Regions from separate parts of the Homo sapiens genome. Here region 1 is linked to region 2. A link means that fine-mapping ties the variant in region 2 to the expression of a gene that starts in the linked region. Tissue or cell type: whole blood. Region 2 holds a variant in brackets; the other region holds the start of a gene. All regions are shown on one strand. Distances are from middle to middle.

Region 1 (8,053 bases), 26 kb before region 2:
CCGGGCTTTACCAGCACGCACCCTGCACGGGTAGCAGAGAAAGCTGCCTTCAGTCAGACTCACCGGTTAACTGGGTTGAGACCGCGGGGCACTGGAGGGAAGGGGACACAGCCGTCTCTGCTGAGGGTCAACCCTGCAAGTGGCTAGGAGTCAGTGTCTCGTCATCCTGGGAGAGGTCTCCCGGCCATGGAGAATGAGTTCTGTAGGTACCAAGGCTGAGAAGCGGGCACCACACAAGCCAGGCCCCAGGCTCAGGGAGGGGCTGTGTCTACCAGCCCCAACAGAGCAGTTGGCCCCAGGCTACCAAGGATACCGTGGGAGGAGGACAGGGCCATCTGAGGAGGGCATCCCCCGCCTAGGAGATCAGCCCCGTCTCTGGGGTCTCCGCCTGGCTGACCCCCGCCCCATCCCAATCCACCCCCCAATAGGCTTCACCACGGCAGCATACCTGCGCATCCACGCGGTGAAGGACCACGGGCTCCAGGCCCCGCGGGCTGACCGCATCCTGTGCAAGCTGTGCAGCGTGCACTGCAAGACCCCTGCCCAGCTGGCCGGCCACATGCAGACCCATCTGGGGGGGGCCGCCCCCCCTGTCCCGGGAGACGCCCCCCAGCCACAGCCCACCTGCTGAGGGGGACCCCCGCACCCACCAGGCAAGGCGTGGGGCATGGCTGGGGGGCGGGATGGGGGGTGTGGGGGACAACGGGGCTCAAAGGGCCCAATAGGGGATCTCAGGAAGGCGAGGGATGCCCATGTACCACTCAGGCTAGGGAGACTTCTGGGCACAGGGAGGATCCTTGAGAACTGCTCTGTCTGGGTGAGGATGCAGGCTGAGGCCTCTGGGGTCCAGATAGGAAGTGAGCAACGGCTGTGTCCCAGGGGAAGCAGGCTGGGAAGGTGTGGGGTGAGGGCAAGGCTCTTGCCATTCAGATCGCGCTGTGATCCGTGGTGTTTCTCCTGTGCAGGTACTGGTGAGGTTTGTCCAATGGCGGCGGCAGCGGCAGCGGCGGCAGCGGCAGCAGCGGCAGCAGTAGCAGCCCCTCCCACAGCTGTGGGCTCCCTCTCGGGGGCGGAGGGGGTGCCTGTGAGCTCTCAGCCACTTCCCTCCCAACCCTGGTGAGCTCCAAGTTGGTTGCGGGGGAGAGGGGAGAATGGAGTAGAGTCCCTTGGTACAAGCTCCTCTCCCCCCTCTTTTCCCACCAACTCCTATTTCCCTACCAACCAAGGAGCCTCCAGAAGGAAAGGAGGAAGAAATGTTTTCTTAGGGGAATTCGCTAGGTTTTAACGATTTGTTTCTCCTGCTCCTCTTCTGTCAGACCTGACCCCACACAAACCTGTCCCCTCGGTTGTGTTGAAGTCCCCTGGACAGTGGGCAGGGGTGGCAGAGGACACGAGCAGCCACTGCCCGTACCCCCTCTCCTCTCTGTAAGCCCATGCCCTGTCTTCCCAGGGACTTGTGAGCCTCTTCCCTCGACGGTCCTCTTCTCTCCTTCCAGTCCTCTCCCCCTGCTGTCTGCAGCCCCTCCCCGGGGAGTTGGTGCTTTCTTTTCCTTTTTTTTTTTTTTCCAGGGGGAGGGAGGAGAGGAAGGAGGGGGATCAGAGCTGTCCCAAAGAGGGAAAGCGGTGAGGTTTGAGGAGGGGCAGAAGCAGGGCCGGCAAAGGTTGTACCTTCATAAGGTGGTATGGGGGGTTGGGGTCAGGCCCTGAACATCGTCCTACTTGAGAATCTGTCAGGGGAAAAAGTCAAGGGGAGCAGGAGGAAGAGCCAGGAGGGCCAGAGGCAGAGAAGAGATGGAGTCTTAGGGGCCAGGGTGAGCGAGGGGTCCAGGGCCTAGAGGTGCTTCCTGGGGGCGGGGGAATGCAGCCAGTGTCCCCCTCCCCTCTTCCACCCCAGCTCCAGCCCTGGTCTTGTCTTTTCATCCCTCTTCCCCACGACAGAAGAAGTTGTGGCCCTGGCCATGTCATCGTGTTCCTGTGTCCCCTGCATGTACCCCACCCTCCACCCCTTCCTTTTGCGCGGACCCCATTACAATAAATTTTAAATAAAATCCTGTTTCTGGCTCTGGATTGAATGAATTGCCCTCACTAAGAACTGCCGCCAACCCCAAGGGTTTCTTCTCGGCCTGGTGTCCGTCAATCCAGCCTTGCTCTGCCCTGTGAGGCTGTGAGGTTCTGGCTCCGCCCTCCCCAGGGGCAGCCTTACTGGCGGCAGCACAGATACAGGGCGGGGCCAAGGCTGTGGCTGTGGAGAGCAAGTTCCAGGTCTCTGGGGAATTCCCAACTCGGACAGGCCCAGAATAGCCCCTGGAGGTTTGAAGAGGCCCCGTCAGAAACCCAAACAGAGCTGCCAGACGGGAATGCCGCCCTCCCCCGTCCACACTCATGGCCGCTGCTCAGCCCCCAGCCGCATCCCTCCCCACGCGCGTCACGGCCCTGAGGCCATGGTGGGTGGATGCGGCTGCGGAAAGGCTGGGGAGTCCGAGCCCTAGGACTGGGAGCAGCGAGGTAGAGAATGAAAGCTGCACCTGTCCCTCATCCTGGGCATGGGCCACTCTGTGTTTACACGGGCTCCTCTGCCCAGCTCCTCCTGCCCCTTGGAATTCCCTTTCCTGTCCCCGCTCCGTCCTTTCCAGGGCCCCTTTTTTGAGCCTTCCAGCGCCAGTTTCTGCCGCTCCTTTCTGCAGGCTCCATTCTCTCCAAACCCCACCCTGCTCCTCCTCTGCAGCCTCCCCGCGTCTTGCCCCATCTTCCTTGCCCTCCTGCTCGTAGAGACGCCTCCACCCGGTCCTGCCTGTCTCACTGGTCCCGTCTCCTCGCAGAACCCTCTCCGTTTCCCCCAAATCCCCGTCTCTTCCAGGAATCCCGGTGACCGTTGGCGGGAGGGGCCGGGGACTTAAGAAGGAGGCGTCTCTCCTGGAGGCGCGCGTGAGAAGGGGCAGGGAGGGGGCGCGAGTGGTCCCCGGGCCGGTTGCCTGGGTAACGCGTGGCTCCCTTGGGCTGGCGGGAGGGGCCGGAGGCTCGCGAGGGGCGGGGGCGGCGACGGCGGCGGAGCGTAGGGGAGGGGACCGGAGAGGAGGGGATGAGCACACGGGAGAGGAGAAGAGGGAGACCCGCCGCCTCCCTCCCTCCCTAGCTGACTTGCTCCCTCCCGGGCTGCGGCTGCTGCAAAAGCCAGCAGCGGCAGCGGGAGCTGTCCGGAGGCCGGCGTCGAGGTGAGACCCGGGCAGACTGAGGCTGCGGGTAGGAGTGGACCGACCGACGGCTGACGCCGGGCGGACTGCACGGGAATGCGGGTGTCTGGAGGGCTGGTGGTGGTGCTGGGCGGGCTGAACCATCGGGAGGAGGCGCCAGCCCACCGAAGGCGAGGGAAGCCCCGGGAGAGGGGCTGACAGGGGATCGAAGGAGATAACCAGGTCCCCCAGAAAGGGGCGGGAGCGTCCTCGCCCTAAACGCGCAGCAAGAAAACCCGCACCGCCTGGGAGCCCAGGGAGGAGGGGAGGATGCAGAGGGAGTGGAATGCGAATGTCGGGTCCTCTGCCCAGTCGGCCTGTCGGAGTGCTATTTGCACAGCTCGTTGATTTTGGGGTGCTGGGATCTGAGAGTCTGGATCTTGTTGGATGGACCCAGGGAGAGACCCTGGAGAAGGTCCTGTTTACAAAAGGGTTAATCTTCCCCAGGGCTCTCCAAGCAGAAGACTTTGAGTAGAGCACTCCTCCCGCAGGGATGTCCCACCCTAAGGCAAAGGAAACCCCAACTTTTCTTCCTCTCCCTAGAGGCAGTGCAAGGCTGGCCCTGAGACAGGAATGTGGCCCAATTGGGCCTGCAGTGCTGAGCGCCCTCTTCCCTCCTCACCCCAAGCCTATCTCCTCCTCTTCCAGGGTTTGCCGCTGTCTCTGCTATTCCATCCTCCCCATAGGGGCTCTCTCCCCTCTCCCATCTCAAGATGGCAGCCAGCAGCTCTGAGATCTCTGAGATGAAGGGGGTTGAGGAGAGTCCCAAGGTTCCAGGCGAAGGGCCTGGCCATTCTGAAGCTGAAACTGGCCCTCCCCAGGTCCTAGCAGGGGTACCAGACCAGCCAGAGGCCCCGCAGCCAGGTCCAAACACCACTGCGGCCCCTGTGGACTCAGGGCCCAAGGCTGGGCTGGCTCCAGAAACCACAGAGACCCCGGCTGGGGCCTCAGAAACAGCCCAGGCCACAGACCTCAGCTTAAGCCCAGGAGGGGAATCAAAGGCCAACTGCAGCCCCGAAGACCCATGCCAAGAAACAGTGTCCAAACCAGAAGTGAGCAAAGAGGCCACTGCAGACCAGGGGTCCAGGCTGGAGTCTGCAGCCCCACCTGAACCAGCCCCAGAGCCTGCTCCCCAACCAGACCCCCGGCCAGATTCCCAGCCTACCCCCAAGCCAGCCCTTCAACCAGAGCTCCCTACCCAGGAGGACCCCACCCCTGAGATTCTGTCTGAGAGTGTAGGGGAAAAGCAAGAGAATGGGGCAGTGGTGCCCCTGCAGGCTGGTGATGGGGAAGAGGGCCCAGCCCCTGAGCCTCACTCACCACCCTCAAAAAAATCCCCCCCAGCCAATGGGGCCCCCCCCCGAGTGCTGCAGCAGCTGGTTGAGGAGGATCGAATGAGAAGGGCACACAGTGGGCATCCAGGATCTCCCCGAGGTAGCCTGAGCCGCCACCCCAGCTCCCAGTTGGCAGGTCCTGGGGTGGAGGGGGGTGAAGGCACCCAGAAACCTCGGGACTACATCATCCTTGCCATCCTGTCCTGCTTCTGCCCCATGTGGCCTGTCAACATCGTGGCCTTCGCTTATGCTGTCATGGTGAGCCCCATGGGACCCTAGCCCAGGCCTGCTGTGGCTCCCAGCTTCCCGCCAGCGCTGCAATAGAGCCTCTGGAGTAATCATGCCTTCCTTCCCCTCTCCTCTCTGCATGGATCCCACCTCCCCAATTCCAGGGCCTTTGTTTGCCTCTCCCTAGGACCTAACCCTCTGAGCCACCACTGCCCTGCCCCTTTGGGTGGGAGGGATATGGAAACACGTGTCACACAGCCTCGCTGACCTGTGCCCTCCTCCCCCTGCCCCTTCACTCCTCCTTCCTCCCTTACCCGCCATCTATGGGGCTGGCCTCTCTCTCTTCTGGATGACTTTTCCACCTGATCCCTTCTGGGCTGGCTTCTCCTGACCCCGGCTATGTGCCTCCACCCCTCGCCCTAACCCCAGTCCCGGAACAGCCTGCAGCAGGGGGACGTGGACGGGGCCCAGCGTCTGGGCCGGGTAGCCAAGCTCTTAAGCATCGTGGCGCTGGTGGGGGGAGTCCTCATCATCATCGCCTCCTGCGTCATCAACTTAGGCGGTGAGTGGGGGCTTGGGACAGGCAGGGGAGGAATGGAAGGGTTGGCAAGGGCAGCTTTACTAACCCCTGCCCCTGCTCTCTCCTGTCTGTCCTCCTTACCTCTCCTTTGTCTCTCCTTGTCTCCCCCTCCCCCCGTCTGTCCTTCCCTCTCCTCTCCCACAGTGTATAAGTGAGGGGCTCTGCCCCGCATCCCAAGACTTTTCTTCCTGTTGGGAGCTGCCTTGGGCCCATCCCTCCCCTGGGGGGAGCCCAACTGATGGCCCTGGCCCCCACCCCTAAGGACCAAGGGAGCCTGAGCGGCCTTGTTTACAGCTTCTGTCCTGCTCCTGCATCTTGCCAGGCTCCTCTGCCAACTGTAGGCCTGCCTCATCCCTGCACTGGTTCCAACCTCCCTGCACTAATGCCTGCATCCCCTCCGGCCTCTTGGCCCCCTATCCCTGCACTTCTGGAAACCTCCCTGCACTCTGGAAACCTCCCTGAACACCTCCCCAACTCTGCGCTCTCAGCCTCCCTGCATCTCTCCTGGCCTCCCTGCACTTCTTCCAGCCCCCCAAATTCTCTGGACCTCCACCCTGGCCGCCTCCTCCCAACTTTCATTGTCTTGGCATCTCTCAACCCTCAGTCCTCTCTTCCTTCCCTTCTTTATCATCTCCCCTTTCCTCTCCACGTCCCGCCCCCTTCCTCTTCCTGCCTCCTCATCTCCCTTAAGCATCCTCTTCTCCAACCTCCCGTCACCGTTTACTCTGCAAAATTGACAGCACTTAGACGAGGCTTGGGGGCAGGGAGCAGTGTTGGGAGAGGGCTCCCCAACCCCAGGCTCGGACTGTTCTCTGCTGGGACCACCCAGGGTCGGACACCCAAGGGTGCCTGGCAGGTCGCAGAGTTGGCAAGCCGGGCCTCGTATGGGGACTCGGGTGAGGGTGGCGAGTACTGGTTCCGAACGCACGCAGGGGAGAAGGGAGGGACGCGGCGCTGACCCTTCCAGGTCAGCTGGAGTTGACCCGCCCACCTGGGCTTTTCAACCCCAGTCCGCGAGTTTCTTTCTTGAAGGTGTGGGGGCTAGATTCATTCACGTGCTTCGTAATGAAATAATCCAAAAAATAGGACCAAAGCGCCCACTGGCAGGAGCGAGGGCGGGGCGCCGCGCTCTATAATTATTTTCTAAGATGATGGGGGAGGTTTGTTGCACGCGACAGCCCGCTGAGGAGGCGGGGACCGAGCTACAACGCGGTTCGGATTTGGCGGGGGTTTTTTTCCTTAAAAAAAAAAAAAAAAAAAAAAAAAAAGTCTGGGGGAAGAAAAAAACTAAAATTCTTAAAAAAAAAAAAAAAAGGCTATTATCAAACTGATTTCTCCCTTTTTGTATGCCGGATGCTGCATGAGTCTGAAACACCAATAAACGGAGACTGCATGAGACTCGCCTCCAATCTCGGTTGGTTCCTGCGTTCGTCCCGCCGGCCCGGCGGTGCTGCCTTTCTGGCAGAACCTTACTGGGTGGTATACGCATGCGACTTCCCGGTGGCCATCTTTACTGTGGGCTGAAGCCTGTGCGCTTACTCGCGCATGTGCAAGCCTTCCCTCGCTTTCCTCTTCCAAGTAGCCTTGCCTAGAGCGGAGCCTCCCGCGCCATTTCTGTGCGCCTGCGTAGCGTGACCCTGCGCAGCCTGGGAGGCGGGTCTTAGCTCCAGGTGCGTACGGCATCTGACTTGACGTGGCCCACAACTGAAAGGTCTGGGGAGAAGGCGCCGTGTCCGGGTGTGGAGAGGGGCGTCGTGGAAGCGAGAAGAGTGGCCCGTCCCTCTCCTCCCCCTTTCCCTCTTTCGGAAAGTGGTTTCTGCGGGGCCCGGGAGCCTCGGAGTACCGAACCTCGATCTCCGGGGCGGGGTCCTTGGTGGGGACTGAGCGCCCCCTCCCGGGGACGGGCGGTCTGGCCGCGGAGTCCCCTGCGGGAGCGTGATTGGCTGGAAACGGTCCCGAACCCCCAGGGGAGCCCGATCCCTGGGGGACCCTGGCTTCGGACTCCAGTATCTGTCGTCGCAGGGTCCCTGCCCTAGTGGCCTATGTCCCTTGCTCGGGGCCATGGAGACACTGCGGCCAGTACGGCGGCGCCTCTGTCTGAAGAAGGGGAAGTGACCTCCGGCCTCCAGGCTCTGGCCGTGGAGGATACCGGAGGCCCCTCTGCCTCGGCCGGTAAGGCCGAGGACGAGGGGGAAGGAGGCCGAGAGGAGACCGAGCGTGAGGGGTCCGGGGGCGAGGAGGCGCAGGGAGAAGTCCCCAGCGCTGGGGGAGAAGAGCCTGCCGAGGAGGACTCCGAGGACTGGTGCGTGCCCTGCAGCGACGAGGAGGTGGAGCTGCCTGCGGATGGGCAGCCCTGGATGCCCCCGCCCTCCGAAATCCAGCGGCTCTATGAACTGCTGGCTGCCCACGGTACTCTGGAGCTGCAAGCCGAGATCCTGCCCCGCCGGCCTCCCACGCCGGAGGCCCAGAGCGAAGAGGAGAGATCCGATGAGGAGCCGGAGGCCAAAGAAGAGGAAGAGGAAAAGTAAAGGCACACCCTTACACCTTGTCCCGGGGCTGCTCCCCTGATGGCGGGAGGAAATAGGGAGGGGAAAATGTGGGACGCTGGAACCTTTGAAAGTGGAGGGAGGGAAGCCAGCGGGGGAGGAGGAACGGGCAGGGGAGAAGCACACGTGTGGGTG
Region 2 (8,064 bases):
ATCCACAACTCTAACAGAGGCAGTTCTGCTGCCTGTTTTAGCAGAAGGACAAAAGTTGGTCTTTGGAGCTTAGAGAAGGCAGAACAGGCTGTTGGCATAGCAGCAACTTGGGCATCTTAGGAGGCCAAGGTGGGCGGATCACTTGAGGCCAGGAGTTCCAGACTAGCTTGGGCAACATGGTGAAACACCATCTCTACAAAAAATACAAATATTAGCCGGGCGTGGTGGCACGTGCCTGTAATCCCAGCTACTCAGGAGGCTGAGGCATGAGAATCACTTGAATCCAGGAGGCTGAGGTTGCAGTGAGCTGAGATCACAGCCTGGGCAACAGAGGGAGACTCCGTCTCAAAAAAAAAAAAAAAAAAAAAAAAACTTTTAAAATTCAACTGGGGTGGGGGTTTGGCCTCAAAAGAATGAATAAGAGGACCGCAGTCAGGAACTTGAGCCTGGGGTCAGTGCTATCTTTTTGCCTATGAAATCTGTCAATCCCCTGTGTCTAAGCTGTGGGGGAGGGGTAGGTGGGGAGCAGGCTGGGGGGCCCTTGTCCCTTACCCTCCACTCTTGGCCCAGGGGAAGAATGGCTGGTCACCACAGTAGGGGCGTACCTCCCAGCGGTGTTTGAGGAGGTTCTGGATTTGGTGGACGCCGTCATCCTTACGGAAAAGGTTGGTGCTCTGGGGGCTGTGGTTTAAGGGACCTGGGGCTAGGGAACCCTCCGAGTGGCAGAGAATGGTGGTAGAATGGCATGAGAGTAAAAGAGAAGCAATAATTTTAGGGTCACTTAAAAAAATTCAGAGATCAGATTGCCTGAGTATTCTGGATCATCTGAAGGGTTAAATAGTCTTTCTGGGGCTGGGCGCAATGACTCACATCTGTAATCTCAGCAATTTGGAAGGCTGAGGCAGGAGGATCACTTGAGGCCAGGAGTCTGAGACCAGCCTGGGCAACACAGTGAGAACTCATCGCTACAAAAAATTTAAAAATTAGCTGGGTGTAGTGGAGCATGCCTGTAATTCCAGTTACTCCAGAGGCGCTGAGGCAGGAGAATCGCTTGAACCCCAGAGGCAGAGGTTACAGTGAGCCATGATCATGCCACTGTGCTCCAGCCTGGGCAACAGAGCGAAACCCTGTCTCAAAAAAAAAAAAAAAAAACAAAGCCGGTCGGGTGCAGTGGCTCATGCCTGTAATCCTAGCATTTTGGGAGGCTGAGGTGGGAGGATCACCTGAGGTCAGGAGTTCAAGACAAACCTGGCCAACATGGCGAAACCCCATCTCTACTAAAAATACAAAAATTAGCTGGGCATGGTGTCACCCACCTGTAATCCCAGCTGTACTCAGGAGGCTGAGGCAGGAGAATCGCTTGAACCTAGGAGGCGGAAGTTGCAGTGAGCTGAGATCGCACCTTTGCACTCTAGCCTGGGCAACAAGAGAGAGACTCCGATTTAAAAAAAAAAAAAAACAATCCCTGGATTGGTAGAAATTGTCTCTGAGATCTGGGAGCATTGGGAGCATTTGGTGGCCAATGGGGCTCGCAGATCCCCTGAAGTTGGAGGCAGGTCACTCAAATACCCAACATGTTGCTCTGCAGACAGCCCTGCACCTCCGGGCTCGGCGGAACTTCCGGGACTTCAGGGGAGTGTCCCGCCGCACTGGGGAGGAGTGGCTGGTAACAGTGCAGGACACAGAGGCCCACGTGCCAGATGTCCACGAGGAGGTGCTGGGGGTTGTGCCCATCACCACCCTGGGCCCCCACAACTACTGCGTGATTCTCGACCCTGTCGGACCGGATGGCAAGAATCAGCTGGGGCAGAAGCGCGTGGTCAAGGTGAGGTCCCTACACCCCCACAGAGGACTGCCCTGGGAGATGTATGTCCTCTAGTGGCATGAGGCCCTCTGCCTTCTCTCCTCCAGACGCACGTTCTAGGAACACCTTCTGTGCCTTTGCATGCTTAGTTCTTACACACCTGAGACACTGGCCCATTTGATTCCTGGCAGCCTCTGACTTACCCCTCAGACCTGAAGTTAATTCCCCTTCTGGGAAGGCCTCCTGGCTACCCGCTGCCTGAGACTCTGAAACTCTGATACAGTCATGCGCCACTTAATGATGGGGATACATTCTGAGAAATAGTCCTTAGATGATTTTGTCTTTGTGCAAAAGAGTGCACTTATGCAAACCTAGATGGCACCTAGTCTAGATGGCGTAGCCTGCCCCTAGGCTGCCAACCTGTGCAGCATGTGACTGTCCTGAATACTGCAGGCAGCTGAACACAATGGCAAGTACTTGTGTATCTAGCCATAGAAAAGGTAAGGTAAAAATACAATATAAAAGCTTCGTTATAGGCCAGCACAGTGGCTCATACGTGTAATCCCAGCACTTTGGGAGGCCGAGGCAGGTGGATCACTTGAGGTCAGGAGTTCGAGACTAGCCTGGCCAACGTGGGGAAACCCTGTCTCTACTAAAAATACAAAAATTAGCCAGGTGTGGTGGCACACACCTGTAATTCCAGTTACTCGGGAGGCTGAGGCACGAGAATCACTTGAACCCTGGAGATCAAGCCTGTGGTGAGCCGAGATCGTGCCACTGCACTCTAGCCTGGGCGATAGAGTGAGACTCTCAGAAAAAAAAAAAATCTCCATTATAATCTTACGGGACCACCATGTGCAGTCTGTAATGGACTGAACTATCATGCAGTGACTATATTTCACATCTTTAATATCCTGGTGTTCACTTTGCTTTGTCATCTTTTGTAAAATAAACCTCTTGGTTTACCCTCTCCCACCCCCTACTTCATCCCCTCTCTGAACTATATGTGGGAATACCAGCAGTTGCCAAACTCATTCTGTAAAGGGGGCTGGATGGTAGATACTCCAGGCTCCGTGAGTCATTGTTTCTGTGGAAGTTCTTCAACTCTGCTGTTATGTCAGGAAAGCAGCTTGGGCACTACGTAAACAAGTGAGTACTGCCATGCTCCTGGAATAGTTTATCTGCAAAAACAGGAGGCAGAAAAAGTAGAAATAGGCCAGGCATGGTGGCTTACATGTGTAATCCCAGCACTTTACGAGTCCAAAGCGGGTGGATCGCTTGAGGTCAGGAGTTAGAAACCATCCTGGCCAACATGGCAAAACCCTTTCTCTACTAAAAATACAAAAAAATTAGCTGGGCATGGTGTCAGGCACCTGTAATCCCAGCTTCTCTGGAGGCTGAGGCAGGAGAATTGCTTGAACCCGGGAGGCGGAGGTTGCAGTGAGCCGAGATCACACCACTGCACTCCAGCCTGGGTGACAGAGCAAGACTGTCTCAAAAAAAAAAAAAAATTAGAAATAACCCAAATGTACATATATAATGAATGGATAAAAAATTGTAGCATATCCATACAATGGAATATCATTCAGCCATAAGAAAGAAATGGCAGGCCAGGCGCAACAGCTCATGACTATAATCCCAGTGCTTTGGGAGGCCGAGGCAGGAGGATTGCTTGAAGCCAGGAGTTTGAGACCAGCCTGGGTAACATAGTGAGACCCCATTTTTACAAAAACTTTTAAAAATTGACCAGGCATGGTGGCACACCTGTAGTCCCAGCTATTTGGGAGGCTAAAGTGGGAAAATCGCTTGACCCCAGGAAGTGGAGTGTATAGTGAGCTATGATTGTGCCACTGTACTCCAGCCTGAGGCAGTAGAGTGAGATCCTGTCTCTAGGAAAAACAAAAAATAATGACATACGTGCTACAACATGGATAAAATTGAAAATGTTATGCTAAGTGAAAGAAGCCAGCTGGACGCAGTGGCTCACGCCTGTAATCCTAACACTTTAGGAGGCTGAGGTGGGCACATCACCTGAGGTCAGGAGTTCAAGACCAGCCTGGCCAACATGGTGAAGCCCCGTCTCTGTTAAAATACAAAAATTAGCTAGCATGATGGCGGGTGCCTGTAATCCCAGCTACTGCTCGGGAGGCTGAGACAGGAGAATCTCTTGAACCTGGAAGACAGTAGTTGCAGTGAGCCGAGATCCCACCACTGCACTCCAGCCTGGGCTGCTGAGCCGAGACTCCATCTCAAAAAAAGAAAAAGAAAAAAGCCAGACATCAAAGACCACATATTGCATGATTCCATTTATGTGAAATGTCCAGAATAGGTAAACACATAAAGAAAATAGACTAGTGGTGGGTGGGGTAGGTGGGGAGTGGCAGTAACTTCTAGGTACAGGATTTCTTTTCAGGGTGATGACGAAAATACTCTAGACTTAACATAG[C/T]AGTGATGGTTGGACAACTTTGAGTATACTAAAACAACTGAATTGTGAATTGTATACTCTAGATGGGAAAATTTCATATGTGGATTATATCTCAAAATTTTTTTAAGAAACAGGCGGTGCTGGGCGTGGTGGCTCACATCTATAATCCCAGCACTTTGGAAAGCTGAGGTGGGTAGATCGCTTGAGTCTAGGACTTTGAGACCAGCTTAGGCAGCATGGCAACACCCCATCATCTACGAAGCACACAAAAATTAGCTGGGTGTGGTGATGCGCATCTGTAGTCCCAGCTCCTTGGGAGGCTGAGGTGGGAGGATTGCTTGAGCCTGGAAGGTTGAGGCTGCAGAGAGCTGAGATCATGCCACTGCACTATCCAGCCTGGGCAAGAGAGGAAGACTATCTCAAAAAAAAAAAAAAAAAAAAAAAAAGGCAGAATCCAGATTTGGCCTGAAAACCAGAGTTTGTCAAGCCCTAGGTTACACCATCTCTAGAAAACAAAGCCTGGGAGAAAGAAGAAAAAACAGGTTGATTTTTAATGGTTTAGCTTGCGTGGATCCAGGTCCTGACAGTTATGGAATCTTTCAAGGACACATTTGACCAGATGAGATTTGGCAGGCGTTTGTGTAGAGCCTCACAGTCCAGACAGTGCCTCACCGTATTATGATGTGGGGGTGGGGGCGGGCTTCTGGTGCTCTTGTCCTCCACACAGGCCTGAAACAGCACAGGACTGGGGAGGTACCATTGGAAGCACCCGCAACCCTAAAGGCACTGACCCTAACCTCACGTCTCCCCACTAGGGAGAGAAGTCTTTTTTCCTCCAGCCAGGAGAGCAGCTGGAACAAGGCATCCAGGATGTGTATGTGCTGTCGGAGCAGCAGGGGCTGCTGCTGAGGGCCCTGCAGCCCCTGGAGGAGGGGGAGGATGAGGAGAAGGTCTCACACCAGGCTGGGGACCACTGGCTCATCCGCGGACCCCTGGAGTATGTGCCATCTGCCAAAGTGGAGGTGGTGGAGGAGCGCCAGGCCATCCCTCTAGACGAGAACGAGGGCATCTATGTGCAGGATGTCAAGACCGGAAAGGTAATGGCTGGGAGTGAGCAGCAGTGCTGCCACGTGGCCTTGGCCTTGGTGGCGGCTTCCTCTGGGTGTGTGGAAGAGGTGGGCAGGGACTTCAGCAGCATGGAGAGCCATATCAGGTGGGCTGTCTGGTTGGGGGAGGGCACTACGTGGAGTGTTTGCCATCCTTCTGCCTTAAATGTCTCATTTGAAATGTTAGAACCAACCAGGTGCGGTAGCTCACATCTGTAATCTCAGCACTTTGGGAGGCCGAGGCGGGCGGATCACCTGAGGTCAGGAGTTCAAGACTAGCCTGGCCAACATGGGAAACCCTGTCTCTACTAAAAGTACAAACATTAGTCAGGCGTGGTGGTGGTCTGAGTAGTCCCAGATACTTGGGAGGCTGAGACAGGAGAATTGCTTGAACTGGGAAGCGGAGGTTGCAGTGAGCCGAGATCACACCACTGCACTTCAGCCAGGGTGACAGAGTGAGACTCTGTCAAAAAAAAATATTAGCATGTCCACTGAGAGGACAAGTGGGGGTTTAGGACAGGGACCCTTTCCCACAGCAGACCTGGTTTCCAGCATAAAGGTCTGATGGGGTGGCCAGGGAACAGGAAGGACCTCCTCCCTCATGCCCATATCCCGGTGGAATCTTTCATTTTTTTCTGCTTCACCTAAAACCTTGACCTTGATTTGACCTCGGGCCACATCTCCAACCTTCTCTAAGAATCCAAGCTGGAAGTCCAGCTTGGAATCCGAGGGAGCATCCGTGTACACAGCCTACTTCACCATCCCCGAGGTGCCCTCCAAACTGCCCCATGAAGGAAGATTCTAGAAATAACATTGAGCACCTTCTCTATGCCAAGAGCTGTTTGAGCTAGACATGTGAAGATGTCATTCACCCCTAGACCCTGCAAGGTAGCCACCGTCAAGTCCACTTGACACATGAGGAAACTGAAGCCCAAGGGGTGAGGTAGTTAGCCCACGATGACAGGGCCAGCAGATGGCAAACCCGGGGTGGAGCCTGGCCTCCCCGTAGAGAAGGTGTTTAACCTCGTGGCGCGCCTTCCCTGGATGGGCTCTGCTTTGGGACAGCTGGGCGGATCTTCCTCCCTTCCACCCTTACGGGCAGCTTCCCTCCCTGTCCTCGTCCCAAGGTGCGCGCTGTGATTGGAAGCACCTACATGCTGACCCAGGACGAAGTCCTGTGGGAGAAAGAGCTGCCTCCCGGGGTGGAGGAGCTGCTGAACAAGGGGCAGGACCCTCTGGCAGACAGGGGTGAGAAGGACACAGCTAAGAGCCTCCAGCCCTTGGCGCCCCGGAACAAGACCCGTGTGGTCAGCTACCGCGTGCCCCACAACGCTGCGGTGCAGGTGTACGACTACCGAGAGAAGCGAGCCCGGTGAGTGCTGGCAGCGCAGGGTGTAGGGGGTGGCTCTCCATGGGTCTGGCTCTGACCCTCGGCTGTCTCTGCAGCGTGGTCTTCGGGCCTGAGCTGGTGTCGCTGGGTCCTGAGGAGCAGTTCACAGTGTTGTCCCTCTCAGCTGGGCGGCCCAAGCGTCCCCATGCCCGCCGTGCGCTCTGCCTGCTGCTGGGGCCTGACTTCTTCACAGACGTCATCACCATCGAAACGGCGGATCATGCCAGGCTGCAACTGCAGCTGGCCTACAACTGGTAAAAATGGGGACAGGGCATGGGGGTGCATTCCTGGAATCCCAGCACTTTGGGAGGCTGAGGTGGGAGGATCACTTGAGCCTAGGAGGTCCAGGCTGCAGTGAGCCTTGATGGCCCCACTATACTCCAGCCTGGGTGACAGAGCAAGACCCTGTTTCTTTGTTTTTTGTTTTTTTAGTTTTTTGGTTTTTTGGTTTTTTGGTTTTTTTTGAGACCGAGTTTCACTCTTGTTGCCCAGGCTGGAGTGCAATGGCGCGATCTTGGCTCACTGCAACCCCCACCTCCCGGATTCAAGCGAGTCTCCTGCCTCAACCTCCCAAGTGGCTAGGATTACAGGCATGTGCCACCATGCCCAGCTAGTTTTGTATTTTTAGTAGAGATGGGGTTTCTCCATGTTGGTCAGGCTGGTCTCGAACTCCTGACCTCAGGTGATCCGCCTGCCTCGGCTTCCCAAAGTGCTGGGATTACAGGCATGAGCCACTGCACCCGGTCAACCCTGTTTCAAAACAAAAAAAACAAACCGGGTGGCAAGCAGTGGGTGAGGGTTCCTGCTGGGTGCAGCCTAGGAACCCCAAGAAAAGGAGGGTCCTGCTCAAGTGCTGGTGCTGGGCTCCTCATGAAGGCAGGACACCTCATTCAGTGCTGAGGTCAAGAGGGAACCTAGGAGTTCACGCAAATCCAGGGAAGGCGTGGGCTCACCTCCTGGGGTCAGGACTCAGGGATCCAGTAGCAGGACACTACCCCAACTAAGCTCCCAGTGAGCGTGCAGCCAAATGCGTAACTGTCGGGCTGTTAAAAGATGCATGGGACACAGCTGGCGGGAGTGGGCAGTGCAAGGGGGCGGTGAGAACTCAAGTTCAGAAACTGACTGCCCTGGCCTGCGCCCCCGCCCTGCTGTTTGCAGCCTGTGGACCTGGGGAAGGGACAGGGTGCTTTCCTCAGTTTCCCCATCTGTAACATGAGGAAGACAGCATTTTCTCCTTCACAAGGCCATTGAAAAGATGCAATGAGTGTTAGAACAGTGCCTCTATTGGTCAGAGCTCAATAGCAGCTATTAGGATTGGGTGAGATAAGTCATGTACAGA

Evidence for each region. PIP is the estimated chance that this variant, and not a neighbour inherited with it, causes the effect.
Region 1: PRRT2 starts here. The variant in region 2 is fine-mapped to the expression of PRRT2 in whole blood (INTERVAL, PIP 0.97).

The regions. Positions count from the first base shown.
Region 1 is chr16:29,809,112-29,817,164 of GRCh38, forward strand. It overlaps PRRT2 (proline rich transmembrane protein 2), which reads left to right and starts at 3,082. Exons shown (of 4, transcript NM_145239.3): 1 at 3,082-3,212; 2 at 3,879-4,822; 3 at 5,222-5,354; 4 at 5,517-6,770. The coding sequence starts at 3,944. The coding sequence ends at 5,527. It overlaps MAZ (MYC associated zinc finger protein), which reads left to right. Exons shown (of 5, transcript NM_002383.4): 5 at 966-2,053. The coding sequence ends at 1,120. PAGR1 (PAXIP1 associated glutamate rich protein 1) reads left to right here and starts at 7,041. Exons shown (of 3, transcript NM_024516.4): 1 at 7,041-7,896. The coding sequence starts at 7,415. MVP-DT (MVP divergent transcript) reads right to left here. Exons shown (of 4, transcript NR_186424.1): 3 at 924-1,062; 4 at 1-22. RefSeq lists silencers at 2,455-2,534, 2,935-3,084, 7,183-7,352 and enhancers at 5,751-6,380, 6,273-6,492, 6,743-6,992.
Region 2 is chr16:29,835,134-29,843,197 of GRCh38, forward strand. It overlaps MVP (major vault protein), which reads left to right. Exons shown (of 15, transcript NM_005115.5): 6 at 571-665; 7 at 1,589-1,825; 8 at 5,045-5,326; 9 at 6,463-6,707; 10 at 6,782-6,979. Among named protein-coding and RNA genes, the nearest start is that of MVP, 19 kb to the left of the region's middle. The variant C/T (reference allele first, on the strand shown) is at 4,251.